2 separate regions of the Homo sapiens genome follow, and region 2 is linked to region 1. The links come from fine-mapping of genetic effects on gene expression. Tissue or cell type: spinal cord. Region 1 holds a variant in brackets; the other region holds the start of a gene. All regions are shown on one strand. Distances are from middle to middle.

The links. PIP is the estimated chance that this variant, and not a neighbour inherited with it, causes the effect.
Region 2: PDE4D starts here. The variant in region 1 is fine-mapped to the expression of PDE4D in spinal cord (GTEx, PIP 0.98).

The regions. Positions count from the first base shown.
Region 1 is chr5:59,536,404-59,544,403 of GRCh38, reverse strand. All of the region lies in intron 1 of PDE4D (phosphodiesterase 4D), which reads left to right. Among named protein-coding and RNA genes, the nearest start is that of MIR582, 160 kb to the left of the region's middle. The variant A/T (reference allele first, on the strand shown) is at 3,887.
Region 2 is chr5:59,888,969-59,896,968 of GRCh38, reverse strand. PDE4D (phosphodiesterase 4D) reads left to right here and starts at 3,243. Exons shown (of 15, transcript NM_001104631.2): 1 at 3,243-3,801. The coding sequence starts at 3,347.

The sequences.
Region 1 (8,000 bases):
GCTCATTACCAGACTCGATGAGGAGCTCCTTTTCCAGAACTTCTCTCTGCTACACTCTAAGGACCAAGCACCTCTGCCTAAATTCCAAGCAACCATGGCCTGTGGCAGTCTTGGAACTTTTGCCCTCTGGCATGGGTAGAACTAGCGTCAATTGGGTAATTCAATCCCTGAGTTCCTTCTTCAATGAATGAGAGAATCCAGGAATGTGTTGCCAGTTGCCTTTTCCTTGTACCTAGTTTTCCTTGCTGCAGAATGATGACAGTCTATTTCCACACCTCCCCTCCTGCCACTACAGGATTTATGGTCTGCATGCCCCAGTTGTGAAGCTGGCATGTAGCATTTTGTTGCCACAGGCCTGTGAGTGTTTAGAAGTTTGTGTTTGTATTTCCAGGGCTACAGTTTGAATATTGAAGGAACAAACAGCAAACAATTCAGAGGTCAAGCTGTGACTGCTTCCTCATTTGGAGAGCTTATTTTATGTCTGTATATTCTATACTCAGATTCCCACATAACTTGTTTTTTCCACCTTCATTGCTTTGGTTAGATGCTTTCAAGTGCATTTTTTCTCTAAGAAATCTCCATAGAAGAGTTGTTTACTTGAAGTGATGGGTGAGCAAAGTTTGCCTGACGTGGAACCTCAGTAACTTTCCCCTAAGGAAAAGTTCTGGCGTGTAGGGGTGGGCGCTCTTCCATCCAGACGGATGGGAACATAGCCAAGCAGCCAGGAGACACATTGACTTGTGACCACTGGGAAGGATGCCTAGCCAGAAAAGTCCCAGCAGCTGGGTCTGTTAATCTTTTCTGAATGAACCAGCAGGCAGTTGACCTCTCTAAACCTGTCCTGGATTCCTTTATATCTTTGTAGTCACCTTTTTACCCCCTCAAGAATTCCCCTATAAAGTTGTTCTTAATAAGACTCTTTTTGCCCACTTCCCCCTGACCTTCTGAGTTGAATATGAATTTCACTAATTGGTGAAAGAAACCACCATGACCTTGATAAAGCCATTTCTACTCTGGTTCCTCCCTTCTAAGAATTTGTTCATTCAAGCAAGTATTTGAGTCTAAATGGATCCACTTGGACATTTTAATAATTATCATGAACCTCAGTATCCTTAAAGTGTGGCTAAAACAGGCTCAAAAAATTCAGATAGTGTAATCTACTTTCTCTCTCCCTCCTCCAGATTTAAGTGGATTAATTCACTTCACTATGCCAGCACCTGAGTACAGAATAATTTATTTCTGTGTCGTTTCATGATGAAAGTCCAGCTGGCATTAGCTCAAATTATGCAGCTGGCTATTAATTGAAGAAAACTTCCCTGTCACTCCTCAGTCAAACATGATCTGATTCAGCAGATCCTTTTCACTCTCATCTCTTCTATTCTACCAGTAGAATAAATGTAAATAACTTTCACTTGGCTCTGCTTGTCATGGATTGTAAATTACCTGGCAGCATGCAGACTGACCACATTACTGTTTTGGAGGCGGCTTGTTTCAGTTGATTAGTATTTCTAGAAGAGTTTTGCACATTTCATCTCTGAGGCCTGAATGATGTCCACTAGCAGGAAATATTGTAGTCTGCCTTTTTTCTTACATACTGTATACTAAATTTCAATCTAATTTCAACAAGATGTCAAATTCTAGCACCTGTAGGGCAGGTGTTGGTCTTCTATGAATTGATTATATGTTTTTCTATCATACTGGATGGTGTACAAGCCCAGGTTGTATTTTAAATAGAATTTCAAGAGAGAGATTTGTTCTGGAATTTAGAAATATATATTATGTGCCAAAATTATTTGATGAGTGCATTTTGTAATTCTTAAAATACAAAACTACTTGGCATGAAGAGATGCTATAGTATGTTAACAATTGTGGAACTTTTTCATAAGATGAAATTCTGTGCAGAAATGAGGGAGCAGAATTCTTGTGGGAGTGCTAAAATGGTTCATCAATTTGATCCTCACAGCATATGAGAATTCACCAATTATATTACTCTCTGAAAATATGTTTCAGTATCAAGGGCCTCTTTTTGCCCTTCCTCCATCCCAATGTCTGTACTCTCTGTACAGTGTGATCACTGGGTGCTGCATGACCAGTCATTATTATACGCTCAGCCCTGAAAATGAACTTAAGATGGTAAAATCATACCTTGCCAGGATTTGGGTGGCTGTGAGGGATTCAGTAGGATTTTAGCAACAGGGACTGGAAAAGAAATCAGAACTTGGCAGAGAAAAAAATAGCACTAGGATACTAGAAGAGACCTGGGAGAACTAGCTTGACCTTAGAGGCTGGTCTTGTGAGTCATTTGAGAAATAGTATCAAAAGGGCATAAGAGGGCCCGGCATAGATTAGGCTATTTGGGGTTACAGGAGATCCAAAGCTAGAAGGGGCAACAAAACATTGTGGTATGAGGCCATCCTAATTTGAACATCAGGCACAGGATCTAGTGTCCATGAAGTAGATCTCAGGGAATGGGCAGCCTGAGAAGAAGAGTAGATCATGCAGAAGCCAGCAGTCACCCCTAGATCCAGATCTGAGTGTCATGACCTAGATGCAATTAAAATCCTTATAATGGGTCCCACCCTGGCAGGATTCTTTCAGGAACTCAGGCTGAGCCTGAAGTGAGTAGATTCAGCTGAAGGGAAGGTAAAGAACTATAAGTTGATAGACTTGCAAAATGGAGAGGCTGCTTTTAGGAAACCATTGATAATAGTATCAATCCCATTGATAATATATGTGATTGCCCTTTTATAAGGCCATGTGCTTTCTGCACAATTATGATAAAGTATTTAGCCAAACTTGTATTCCCTATATAAAGGGGGAGGAGATAGTATCCCATGGGGAATTCCTTCCCATATTATAAACTGGTAGACAACTTAAGCAAAAATGTTTTTACTCATATGAACACTGTTGAAGTATAAAGCCAGGTATTTAAGTCATGATAGGTGTTTATTTACTTTGAACATTTGCCAGAAGTTTGATGATGGGTATATTTGTAGACTGGGTGTTAGAGGTTGTTATATTCTAAAAAGATATCTTCTGATTAATTTTCTTCATTTATAAAAACAATCTATTTTGATAACATTTAATTTATGAACTTTGGTGTCATGTTACACTTTATACATTTTGGTTGTACATTCCCTGTAATGCTTACAGAGACAGCCAGTCAGGCAATAATTGCTACATACTGAGCGCCTTCTATTTTCTGAGTACTATTGTAAATTATAGAGATAAAGCAGTGAACCAGACAGAGTCTCCATCCTAAAAGAGCCTAGTAGAGGATGGGAACTGATGTAGTATCTTGTAATTGTCACAGCATGGTACACTTGCTTCTTCAGATGCCATTATTAAGGGCGTCGTTTCTTTAAATTCTGAGATCCCTAACTCAGCTTATGCCAGAACTGATGAGAATTAGACCTTCCTAAGGTCTTCTTTCTTCCTAAAATGAATATTGAAATAAATCTATAAGATAAAAATAATCCTACCACCAAGCCCCAATTAAGACTGGATTTTTAACTTGCTCTTCTCAGCACAATGACACAACAGAGGACACAGAGGTTAATGGAATGTCTTTGGAGCAAAGGAGATTTCAAAACCACCAGTTTGTTAGATTTGATGATCAGCTCTGCAAAATGTTTAAAGAAGATTTCTTACTCATATCTTATAAGTTAAGACTATAAATGGTTTAAATGGGGGAGGATGTGACAGGATTGAAAATCTTCCCCTTCCTTTGTGGCTATGAGAATTCACACTGAGCAACAGGGAAGAGAAGGAACTAGAACTTGGAATGAGCCTGTGTGTGGGCCCTCATTGTTCCAGGATTTACAAAGGGCTACGCTGTCATCATATTAAATAAATGGCTCCTGCTCCTTGTGCCAGCTTAATTGCC[A/T]CCTTGGCTCCCGAACAAAGAAATCACAATTGAGGCAAAACATGTTTTGCTATTGAAGGCAAAACCTCCTTAGAGCAATTTTGGGGTTGTTTTTCCATTTAATTTTTTAACTTGCAGAAATAGCCCTCTTTTTTTCTGTTTTTTGGTTTTTTTTGTTTTCGTTTTTTTAAATGATGTACACTTGTGCTGTTAAGTTTCAGCATGGAATACAGGCTTTATGTATTTAGGCAGTAATGCTGAGTTAGATATTGGTACCAAAAAAAATGAAAGAAAGAGAGCAAGAGGACAGCACATGTCAAAATGCCTGATAGAACTGCATGGACAGAACTAAATGTGCTTCCCTACTGTTAGTTACACGTATAAGTCACATCTCAAAGCGTGTTCCCCAGGTTAGCATCAATATCACCTAGGAACTTGCTGGAGATGCAAATTATCTGGTTCCATCTCAGGCCTAATGAATCAGAAACTCTAGGTGGAAGGGAGCAGTCCAGCAACCTGCATTTTACAAAGACCTCCAGGACACTCTGATGTATGCTAGAGTCTGAGATCCACTGGTGCAAAGAATACCATAGGACAGATGTACACTAACTAAACTAGTTCTGTTTCTCTTAAAATGACTTTGACAATATTTAGAATTTTGAAGAATGGTATAGAAATTCATAGTTCGTGTGTGTGTGTTTGTGTATGTATGTGTCTGTGTGTGTGTGTTTTAGCAGAATTCTATTTTAGAAAATATGGGGTAGACTTTTATTTAGTTTTGTTATTTTTGTTATTTTTGAAAAATTAAGAGGTAAGCAGAGAAGTATAGCCAGCTACTTCCATAATTTTGTAGGAATAATGAAGTTTATTCTAGCAGAAAGTTATATCTTATGGAATAACTTCTCTAATATTCTCTCTAGACATATATTCTTTTTTGAGGCAGGAACACAAAAGAAAATTGGCTTCTTCATCAAGTTCAAAGAAATGGTGTTTTAATTATGTAGAGAAGTAATTTCATTTTCTCAGAGAAATGGGTAGACAGATATTAGTAATTTAACTCTCTTCTTAAGTAATGGCTGCTATAGCTCTTACCAACACTGAAAGAAGTAGAGTCAAATAGATTTAAATCTGGCTAGTGATTAGAATTTTTTGGGGGGTAGGGTGGGTGAAACTGTATTGCAGGGAGGTACGTTGTAATAAGACAGCTAGTTATTATGCACTACCCTCCAGTTCTTTGACATGATAGCTAAGGGCATAGACAAAAATCTGAACTCTGTGGTCTTTGTACATATCTGCATTCAGATTAATTCACTTAACAAATATTTGTGGAGCACCTACCATGGGCTTATCACTATAATGGGCTAAGGTTGTACAGTGAGCAAGATACTCACATATGTGATTCTTGTGAAGCCAGAGGTCCAGTGGTAAAGCTAGATGAGTAAACATCAATTACAATGAAGTATAATCACTTCCAGGATGAGGCAGAATATAGGATGTTATGCAAGCAGTCATCCTTGATTTTAGGACTGGGTGATGTGGAGTTCATGAATGGTTCATGGAAGAGGCACTAAAGCCTACAGTGTGAATAGAAATTAGCAAGATGATGGACAGGGCAGGCAGAGACAAGAGCATATGCAAAGTTGGAAAGTGGAGAGTTCTTGACATTACCACATTACTGAATGTGCATATGGTGGAGTTTAGGGTGCAGAGAGGACAGTTGCACATGCTCTGGAGAATGATGGGAGATGAAGCTGAGAATAATACAAGGAAGAGAAAATAACAGGCCTTGCTATCCATGTTAAGAATTCCGGACTTCATTCCAACAAAAGGGAAAGTCTTTGAGGTTGTAGTATTTGGCTGTGCTGTAGAGAGTGTATTGGGGAAGGACAGTGCTGAAGGAAAGGAGACCAGCTGGGACATTGCTGCAATAATTCAGACCGGTACTCATGGCTTGGACCAGCAGCAAGGGGAGAATGAAAAGTAAAGAGATTTAGGAAATAGCTACTTAGGAAATAGATTGAACGGGAACTGGCATTCAATATGTGTGACAGCGAGGAACAGGAAGACACTTGGGACAACTAGAAGAACAGTAGGCCATTCACTGAGTTTGGGGTCCAGCAAGAGGAGTGAGTTTGAGGGTGAAATTATGTGTTCCATTTGGGCTAGTAGGGTCTGAGAAGTCTGTGGTTGTCCAAGTAGAGATGTCCAATAAACTGTGGAAAATGCAATCCCTTAGGCCTCTTTATTCTCATAAATACTTCTCATGCTTTTTCACAGCAGAGGCTAAAGCCAAAAAACTTTTACAGTTGTTGATTACTCCCATAGTGATTGGGCCACTACTCTCGATGTCAGTTTTAAGTGTTATGTGAATTTTAGCGTTGCAGAATTTTAGCATTGCAGAATTTTTCTGCACAAAATCCTAGAAAGCAACTTAGTTTACTCAGTGAAACCTGCCTGCCAACTAACAAGACCTATTATTTTTCAGTTGGGATTTTACTTCAACAGTGGAAACTATGACACAACAGGGATGGTCTAACCCCAATTTGAGCACTCTGTTCTCATTTTCATTAGGAATCACTTCCCTGTAATCATAAAATGGAAATATATTTACTGTAGACATGTTGTTTGGTGAAAGCAACACTAAAAATGAGTAGATGAATATAACAGCTACAGGATAAAATAAGAGTTCCCATTTTTAAAAAGAAGGACTATGTTTACAACACAGCTCTCCTTAATGTTATAGTGTTATTATAGCAGTGAATTTTCAAATAAAATATTTAAATTGGAATGTTAGAAGTTTTCTTCTATCATATCAAATAAGTGGAAGGCCACCTGTTTGATGATTACATATTCAAGTGATAGTTCTCAAAAACTAAAGAAAAATCTCATATAAATTATAAATGATTCTGCAAAGTTTCACCTAACATTTTCTCCATACTTATGAAGCTTCTGAAGTTATTTTACTTTTGAGAAGCCACAGACAGAAAAATTAATATAAATGAGATAAATTTCAACTAGCCTTGAGAATAAAGAGAGCAAGGATAGTCATCAACACAATTAAGAATGACCAAATCCTATTAATGTTTTCAAATTACCAAATTAGAAAAGTTAGGAAGCATGAATAATTTATTTCTGACAACATATTCTTTTTAATATCTGCATTACTTTGGTCGGCTAAGGAGATAAACCTACTCATGTGACATACCATATGTAAACATTTTCCTAATTAATAACTGGAAAGCTTCTATGTGAAATACAAACTTTCTGCTCATACATAATGTAGACTACAGGCAGACAGTTAAGAGTTGGTCAAAGCTGTCAAAGCTTGTTTTATGGAAATCTCATCTTCTTTTCCTGTGCTCTTTATCCTAGTCCAGGTCCTCTGAATTCTTTTACTCTACAGTACTTAGCTAATACAGTGTTTATCCTCACATTCTATCATAGCTTTTATATTAACCACTCAGCAAAATATGTGTGCATGCACATACACGCACAACCATACCTATATTTAATCATCTAGTAAACTATATTAAATCTTCTGTAAACTTCAGATAAGCCTGTTTAAATTGGGGGTGGGTCGTATTGTAGCATACCAAATGGTTCATATACCAAGTATATATTTGTCATACTATGTGGAACAGTATTATATTTAAAACTGAAGTCTTATTTCATGTAGGTTGTACCAAATTTGTGGTGGTAAACATTGTATTTAGGTCATTCACAAAGAGTACAGAAATACAGATTAGCCATATTTTTCTATAGTGCCATTCAGTGTAATAGGTACACAATACATCTCATATTAAAGAAAAAAGAGTCTTTTCAAAAGCCTGTAAGGGTCTGAATAAAGGTCTTAGAAATGTGTCATAACAGCTGAAATCTAAGAGATTTGGAAAAAGTGGGAGAAGTTAAATATTGCAAATGCATAGAGCTAAGACTTCTTCATTGAAAGTTGGGTAGTTCCAACATTCATGTGGAAAATCTTTAAAAGTAGCCAAAAGGTAATTTTTTTTTTTTTTTTTTTTTTTTTTTTTTTTGAGGCTGAGTCTTGCTCTGTTGCCCAGGCTGGAGTGCAGTGGCATGATCTCGGCTCACTGCAAGCTCCGCCTCCCGGGTTCACGCCATTCTCTTGCCTCAG
Region 2 (8,000 bases), 350 kb before region 1:
ATTTATTTAACATATAAGCAGGGAAAACCAATGGGTAGATGGAATATTTTACATTTTTGTTGTTTTAATTAAAAGTAGGAAATACCTAGATTAATGAGAAGAGTTTTTAAATGGAAGGCTGGGAGTGCTCAATATTCAGCAGTATAAGATTTTCTTTTAGCATAGAGGCAACTAGAGTAATACATAAAGTGCATATTTTCATGAGAACTTTGCTTATAAGCTGGACTTCCCTAGAAGTATTTGAGACACAAGGGCGAGTCAACTAATAGTATCTACAGTGTTTTTGCAACCATTTAATGAGAGAGTAAGTCTGGATCAGTAGTTGCTGATGTATGAAATCACATGAAGAGTTTTTTAAAATGCCGATGCCTTGATCCTCCCCTAGAAATACTGATTTTATTTGTCTAGGCAGGGTAGTGATGATCAAACTTTACACTGAAGCAGCATCTTCTCACAAATTTGGTAAAAGTATAAAGCCTCAAGCCCTATCCTGCTTCATGGAGCCTGGGTCTTTGTGTGCTGGATTAGCTCTCCTGGTGATTCTGATAACATCAAAGTTTGGAATCACTGCTCTAGGTTCAACATCAGACATTTTTTTTCAAGCTCCCCCAGGTGATATTCCCTAGGTACAGCCAAGACTGGGAACTGCTGATTAACATGATATTTAGGATACTTCCCAGCCTGGCAGGAATAATAAAAATTGCTACCTTTATTAAACATTCATTGCATATAAGGCATTGTGCTAAGTATTATTTCATTAAATAATTGCAAAATTCTGTGAAGTAGGTAATATTAGTACTACTTTGCATATGGGAGACAGGGATGGTAAATAATTTAGCTAAAGTAACATGGGTAGGAAGTGGTAGATTGGAACTCAAGCTGTAACCTCAAAGATCACACAAGAAACTATTACTATCAATAACATTTTGGAATTATAAGTTAAATTAAAAACTCTACAAGTTGGAAACATATTAAATGATTTTCTTACATTTTAAAATGTTCCTGACTTGCAATTACATAGTAAAAACAAAACAAAGAATTTTTAAAAATCAGTGGGAAATATATAAAAGATAAAGTTTTCATGAGTAAAAAGGAAGGAGCAAATTGGTGGTGAAAATCAGGTTGGATTTGAATTATTCCAATTTAATCTGGAAAAAAATTATAAGTCACTTGTACTGTTAGTGTATGAGAAATTAGAATAAGAGTTTCGGATAGAGGTATTTTGCCACAGTTATATTGAGGCGAAAGGTGGCAAGCATTTCAGGGGAAAGAAGAAATTTGTGTACTTCTTTAAAATGGTTTTGGATGTTAATAATGCAATGAATTAAAAGAAAAAGGCAGTCTATACTGCAGAACACTTCCATTTCTCTCCTTTTGTGTTTGGGAAAATACTGGCTTAGTGCCCTCCTAGGCATGGTAAATACTTTGACCACTGCCACCAGTCACACTTGTGTCTGCAAAAGGGGCAAAAAGAGTGCCTTTGTAAAGTATGGTTTAATCCTACACAGTGGAGAGTGGTGCTTAGGAGATTGCCTTGTTTCTCTTAAGACACAACCTTTCTCAGATTTTGTGTATAGTCCACATATGAGCAGAGGGCTCATATTAAACTGATGGAGGAAAGGTATATTTCCAACCATAAATAAATAAATAGCATGAAGAGATGATGAAGGCCTTCTCCTGCCACTTGCACATTTCGTGGACTGTTCTTGCTGATAAACAAAGTGAGCACTTATTTTCATTGGCATTATTTTCCCAGTGGCATCTAGACTGTGTGGAGAGTGTTGAATTTTCAGCAGTCTAGAGAGTTTGAGACATGGTTCCTGATTCTGGTACTCTAGCATCCATTACATGATATGCTTGAAATGTACATATGAAAATATGTTAAGACTGAGTGTGTGGGAAGAATAGAATAATTACACAGCCAACAAGTTGTTGTGAGTCCTAAATATATTATCGTTCAAATAATGGATGGTACGTGGTAACTTCCACAAAGAAAAATTCTAGAATTATTTTAACAGTAAGCAAATTGCATTTCATCTTTAAGTAATATGGTCAAATAAAAAAGGTACAGGGAAAAAAGTGTCTATATATTGCCCTGAAATCCTCTTGGCTTCTTTAAAAAACATTTGACACTGCAGGAAAATGCTAATTAAAGGAAGACAAAAGTTGAATTTGGATTCTAGTGCCTCATAGGACTCTAATTTCTGTGAATATTGATACAACATGTTTTTAAAACACTTTAGTAATAGAGCTGTGTTCTGCTGGAAGTGGCAGAAAGGCAAATTGCAGGCAGGCACTGAAGATAGAGACTACCGAAGATAATCAGAGGTTTGTAATTGAAAAGGTGCCTTAACCTTAACTCTGGCCAGCGGGCTCAGCCATGGCTCTGCAACTAAGGACGACTCGCCTTGATTTCCAGCGAGGACCACTCCCGAGGCCAAGTTGGAGGAAGATCTTCAAGAGGAAACATTGGGCATTCTCCCTGCTGTGGGAAAGAGCCACACAATGTTTTATCCTATGTCAGGGAAAGAGACTGAATTAATCTTACTATTGGATCTTCACCCAGATCCAATTTTTCAGCGACGCGCATAGACAATATTCCAGGCAACTTTGCCTGGTCACATTCCTTATCTTTGGAAGCACCAGCATGGGGCTCATCGTCAACAAGCTCTGAGAACCAGCCAGGAATCGCCAAACTCCATTTCTCTAAGAGCACTGAGGCAAGCGGAGGTGAAGAGGAAGGCTCCGGGGCAGTGGGGAGCAGTGTGGAGGAGGGAGGCGCGGGCACGGCGAGGGGAAGGATCAAGAGGACAGGTCTGACTCCTGACTGGCTGGAGTGGTTTTGGTGAAAGTCACAGCTCGGGCGTGCCAGCCTGGAGCTGTCCAACTTTTCAGCAGCTCCGGGATCAGGGTTCCGGTGCCCTGGAGGCGGCTACCACTGCCGCCGCCGCCGTTGCTGCTGCTTCTGCAGCCCGAGTTGCTGACAATCCCTGCTCTCGCCGCCGGCGCCCAAAGGAAGGGAAGAAGAAAGGGAGGAAGAAGGACCAACCTCTGGCGAAACCGGGCACCGCGCACCCTAGTCTTGGTGACTTGGGGAGCCCGGGAGCGTGTCTCTGCCATAGCCTCGGTGGAAGGAGCCCTGCCGCGTTCTGTGACCCCTCCCGCTGGCAGGGCCCCCTCTCGGTAGCCCTGAGGCTCTGGCGCCTTCAAGTGAGAAGCTAAGCACCAGCCTCTGCTGGGCTGCAGAAGCGGCGGCGGCGGCAGCAGCAGCAGCAGCATCAGGAAGGCGCTCGGGCCAGCGCGGTGAACCCGGGCTGGGCAGCAGGTCGCGGAGCCGCGAGCCAGGATGGAGGCAGAGGGCAGCAGCGCGCCGGCCCGGGCGGGCAGCGGAGAGGGCAGCGACAGCGCCGGCGGGGCCACGCTCAAAGCCCCCAAGCATCTCTGGAGGCACGAGCAGCACCACCAGTACCCGCTCCGGCAGCCCCAGTTCCGCCTCCTGCATCCCCATCACCACCTGCCCCCGCCGCCGCCACCCTCGCCCCAGCCCCAGCCCCAGTGTCCGCTACAGCCGCCGCCGCCGCCCCCCCTGCCGCCGCCCCCGCCGCCGCCCGGGGCTGCCCGCGGCCGCTACGCCTCGAGCGGGGCCACCGGCCGCGTCCGGCATCGCGGCTACTCGGACACCGAGCGCTACCTGTACTGTCGCGCCATGGACCGCACCTCCTACGCGGTGGAGACCGGCCACCGGCCCGGCCTGAAGAAATCCAGGATGTCCTGGCCCTCCTCGTTCCAGGGACTCAGGCGGTGAGTGGAGAGCGCCCCCTCCCCCATTCAGGCAAAGGGTCACCTCCCCTTTTCTCAAATACTCCATCTAAGTCGGCTTATCACCACCAATTCTAGACCCAGGGTAAAATGCTAGTCTGGAAATTGGGGGAGGACAAACAGGGGTGTGCCTATCCTTTATTGAGAGTATGCTATTCAGGTGTGTGTAAGAGACCCCCCAAAAGTACTGCATAAATGTTAACTGGGGCCGTGTGTGTGTGTGTGTGTGTGTGTGTGTGTGTGTGTGTGTGTGGTGCGCGCGCTTCCCAGTTATCTGTGCCACGCACCAGCCCTCTCCCCACCCACTTCCATACCACCCTGGCTAGTGAGACTAAACAGGCAAAATCAGTTTGCTCTGGGTGGAGAAGAAGAGAAGGTGAAGGTTTTGCGGGATTTGACCAGCGAAAGCACCCAGCATCTGTCCACTCACCCTATTGGGAAGAGGGTCGGTGGGGCTGCTCTGACTGGGGAGGAGGGGGGAGTGAGAAAGCCTGGTCCCAGGATTGCAGCTAAAAGCCTAAGAACAACTCGCATTTCTCTTCGTCAGGTGGAGAAGTAAATTGAATAGCAAAAGGGGAGAACACGTGGGTGACTTGGAGAGTTTGGAGCAAAATGTTCAGCAATCCTTGAGAGAGACAAGGGGGTGAGGGAGGGAGAAGGAGCGAGGACGCTGTGGGAGTTACACTGTGTCGGTGTGTGCGAGCTTGTGTGTAGGGAGACCGTGTGTGTATCAGTCGTCCCTGCAAAATCCCAGGAAGAAAGCGCCTTGTTTTAGCAGCAGGCAAGACGTAGAGATTTGATTATAGTGATTTCCCCTTAACGTAAGTGCTCCGGAAGACAGGGCAGGGAAGCCGCCTATCAACCGGGAGTTTTAGTAGAAGTTGACCGCTGCTTCTCCAAGGAAATGAGTAAAGGACCAATTACAGCCATTCTGAGGAGTCAGCTCCAGATTCTTAACTCAGGCGTGGAGGTGGATGTGGGGCCCACGTTTGGTCCCTTTCCTGATAACCCAGGGACAGCTCCTTTCTTCCCTGTCCCAGGCCTTCCACGCCGTGAATCCCCTCCCCCACACAGGCACAGGAAAAAGATTTCAGGAGCTGCTGATCCTTGGCACATCTAATAGTAAAGTAGAGGGGTCGTCATCTAACCTTAGATGTGGACAGGCATCGATGTACTGCACCTCCAAGCCACAAGTCTGAACAATGGGCAGTTATAAATTGTAAATCAGGTCTGGGTGTGGAAACAGGAAAATCTAGGGCTGGGATTGTTTGTCCAACTCTGATTGACAGTAGGTTGGACTGATCAGAAAATCATAATGGTGTTCAAATGTGTGTTTGAGTTTTGTGTGTGTGTGTGTGTGTGAGCATGTCTCTCTGTTGTATACACTATGTACAAGGGAATCCAGCCAAACTATCATAACCCTGATGTGTACACATCATTTCAGCTTGCATATATGCTCTTAGCCCTTTGCCTGGCTCACACCCTTAGGTACCTTGTTGGAGATGTTCTTGTACCTGTTGGATGGGAAGAATAAGAATTGTAATTAATAACCTCAATTCAGATCAAAGACTGCAGACTTCCATAAATTAATATAAAAGTTTCATTTTTCAGCCAAGACTGCTAAGACCCTTTGTTTGAAGAGGTGGATGTCCTTCTCTCTCCCCTTTGGTTGAGCACGACACTATGTAGGACCCCAATGATAGAATGAAGGCAAGCCTGATACTTTGTATATTTGACCTATTAATAGAAAAATACCGTGTGATGATGAGCCCTTAATAAACATTAAATAAGAACAAGAGTTCTAGCTTGATCTGTGGGCTGATTGATTTTGTAGAGTTTCTTAATTGACTTCATTTTTTAATAAAATAGAATATGCCTGAGAGAGTGGAAGAAAGAAAAATAAGCTAATTGGAATAGAGGTATTGCATCATTGATTTGAATTTATTTTTTGCTATGCTTTCTACATTGATTAATTGTTCTATTTGAAATTTTTAGTTGAATGGTTCACAGGCAAACTAAGATGTATAATATTTATATGTAGCTGCCACTGTGGCTCACCTGATATATCATTGTCATTCTATTTAAGGATCCTTAGACTTAAAATTCTTTACAATACTTGCATATTCCCCACATGCTCACACATTGCATGTCATGTTTTTCCTTAATAGAGTTGCTTTTGCAAATAAATACATCTTTAAGGAGGACATGGATATTAGTTTCATTCTTTAAAGAGAACAGCAACAATACTTTTTTATTTTAAAGAGAACAGCAACAATGCTTTTAAATTATCAAAGAAATTTTACATTTATTAACTTATTTGAATCCTACAACAACACTGAGATGAGATGGTATTATCTCTATTTGATAGACAAGAATGCTGAGCCCCAGAAGATGCGAGCAATTTGTTCAGTATCACATAGACTGTGAGTGCTAGAGCTAAGACTGAAACCCAAGTCTCCTGCCTCATCAAAGGTGGTGAGCCCACCTTAAATAAATGTGTGCAGAACCTGGGCCTGTTGACAGCATCAAGAAATACATGAAACCAACGTGAAGTTTATATCGACTGATACTACAGGACATAAAGCCTGAATGAACTAAAAATGAGATATGGTTTAAATCCATTTTTAACAAAATGACATATATCACAAGCTTCTAGAAGTAATTAGAGATTTTAACTTTAGAAACTCTGGGCAGTATAAACTGGTGTTAATGATCACAACAGAGGCAAATCAGTGTATTTGTTGACTTTGTAAAATGCATATAAATACTTATGAAAGAGTGTTCAGATAAATTAAAGCTAGTGAGAACATCTAACGTCTTTTTCAATAATTTTCTAAAAGCAAACAAGAAAAGGTGTGTGTGTGTGTGTGTGTGTGTGTGTGTGTGTGTGTGTGTACGTGCGCACCACCATCTTACCATCATCCAAATGGGGGGTTTAAATAGTCTATCAAGTTAATGTCTCTGAAAAAGCCTCATGGGTGGATGGATGAATGATTCCCTATGGATTATCAAGAAAGGTATATCTTTTATAAAGCTATTTCTAGCATGCACTGTAGCATTTCCAGATATTATCTTGGCTGAAATTTTGAGAATTTGTAACAGTTTGTGAAGCAATGGGAAAGAGGAATCTTGTTTAATGAAAAAATGTATATAAGCAGTAAGGAGACAACCCTTAGATATTTTGTGGTCAATTCTTTTAAGTCCATGGGAAATTTGGATATGTTAAATAAATTTTTTATATAAAGTGTGTCTGTCAAACAAGGTAGATTCATGTCTTAATCTCAACATGCAAGAAATTTCAAACAATAAAATTACCAGAGAAATGAGTCTCTAAGTTACCAAGAGAACAAAATGAAATATGAAAAATGTTTAAAACACTCTTTAAAAATGTACATATCAGATTAATCATTTCAACCAATAGTCTTCAAAATGTGACAACTATTTAACTGAACTGATAAATAATTTTATTGTTTCTTTGACTTTACACAACAAAATATTATTTTCAATAATATAATACACTAAGGTTGAAAATACAAGCAGCATGGATGATTCCTTGATATTATAAAATATTCTGGATTATAGTGATACAAATATCCAGAAGGGGACATTTGATTTAGATACTTTGTTTGATTCATTTATTTTTATCTATTTATATTTATTGTTTTTTTAGAGACTGGGTCTCGCTCTGTCACCCAGGTTGGAGTACAGTGGCACAATCATAGCTCACTGTAGCCTTGAACACATGTGCTCAAGTGATCCTCCTGCCTCAGACTCCCAAAGTGCTGGGATTACTGTCATGAACCACCATGCCTGACTCAATTTAGGTAGAAGGAAAAGAGCTAAAACCTATAATCACACAAAATATAAATTCTGCGCATATTATATTTACTTGACATTAGCTTTTTTTTTTTTTTTTTTTTTAGACAGAGTCTCGCTCTGTCACCCAGGCTGGAGTGTGCAGTGGCACAATCTTGGCTCACTGCAAACTCCACCTCCCAGGTTCAAGGGATTCTCCTGCCTTGGCCTCCCAAGTAGCTGGGACTACGGGCACGAGCCGCCACGCCTGACTAATTTTTTGTATTTTTAGTAGAGATGGAGCTTCACCATGTTGGCCAAGCTGGTCTCAAACTCCTGGCCTCAAGTTATCCACCCGCCTCGGCCTCCCAAAGTGCTGGGATACA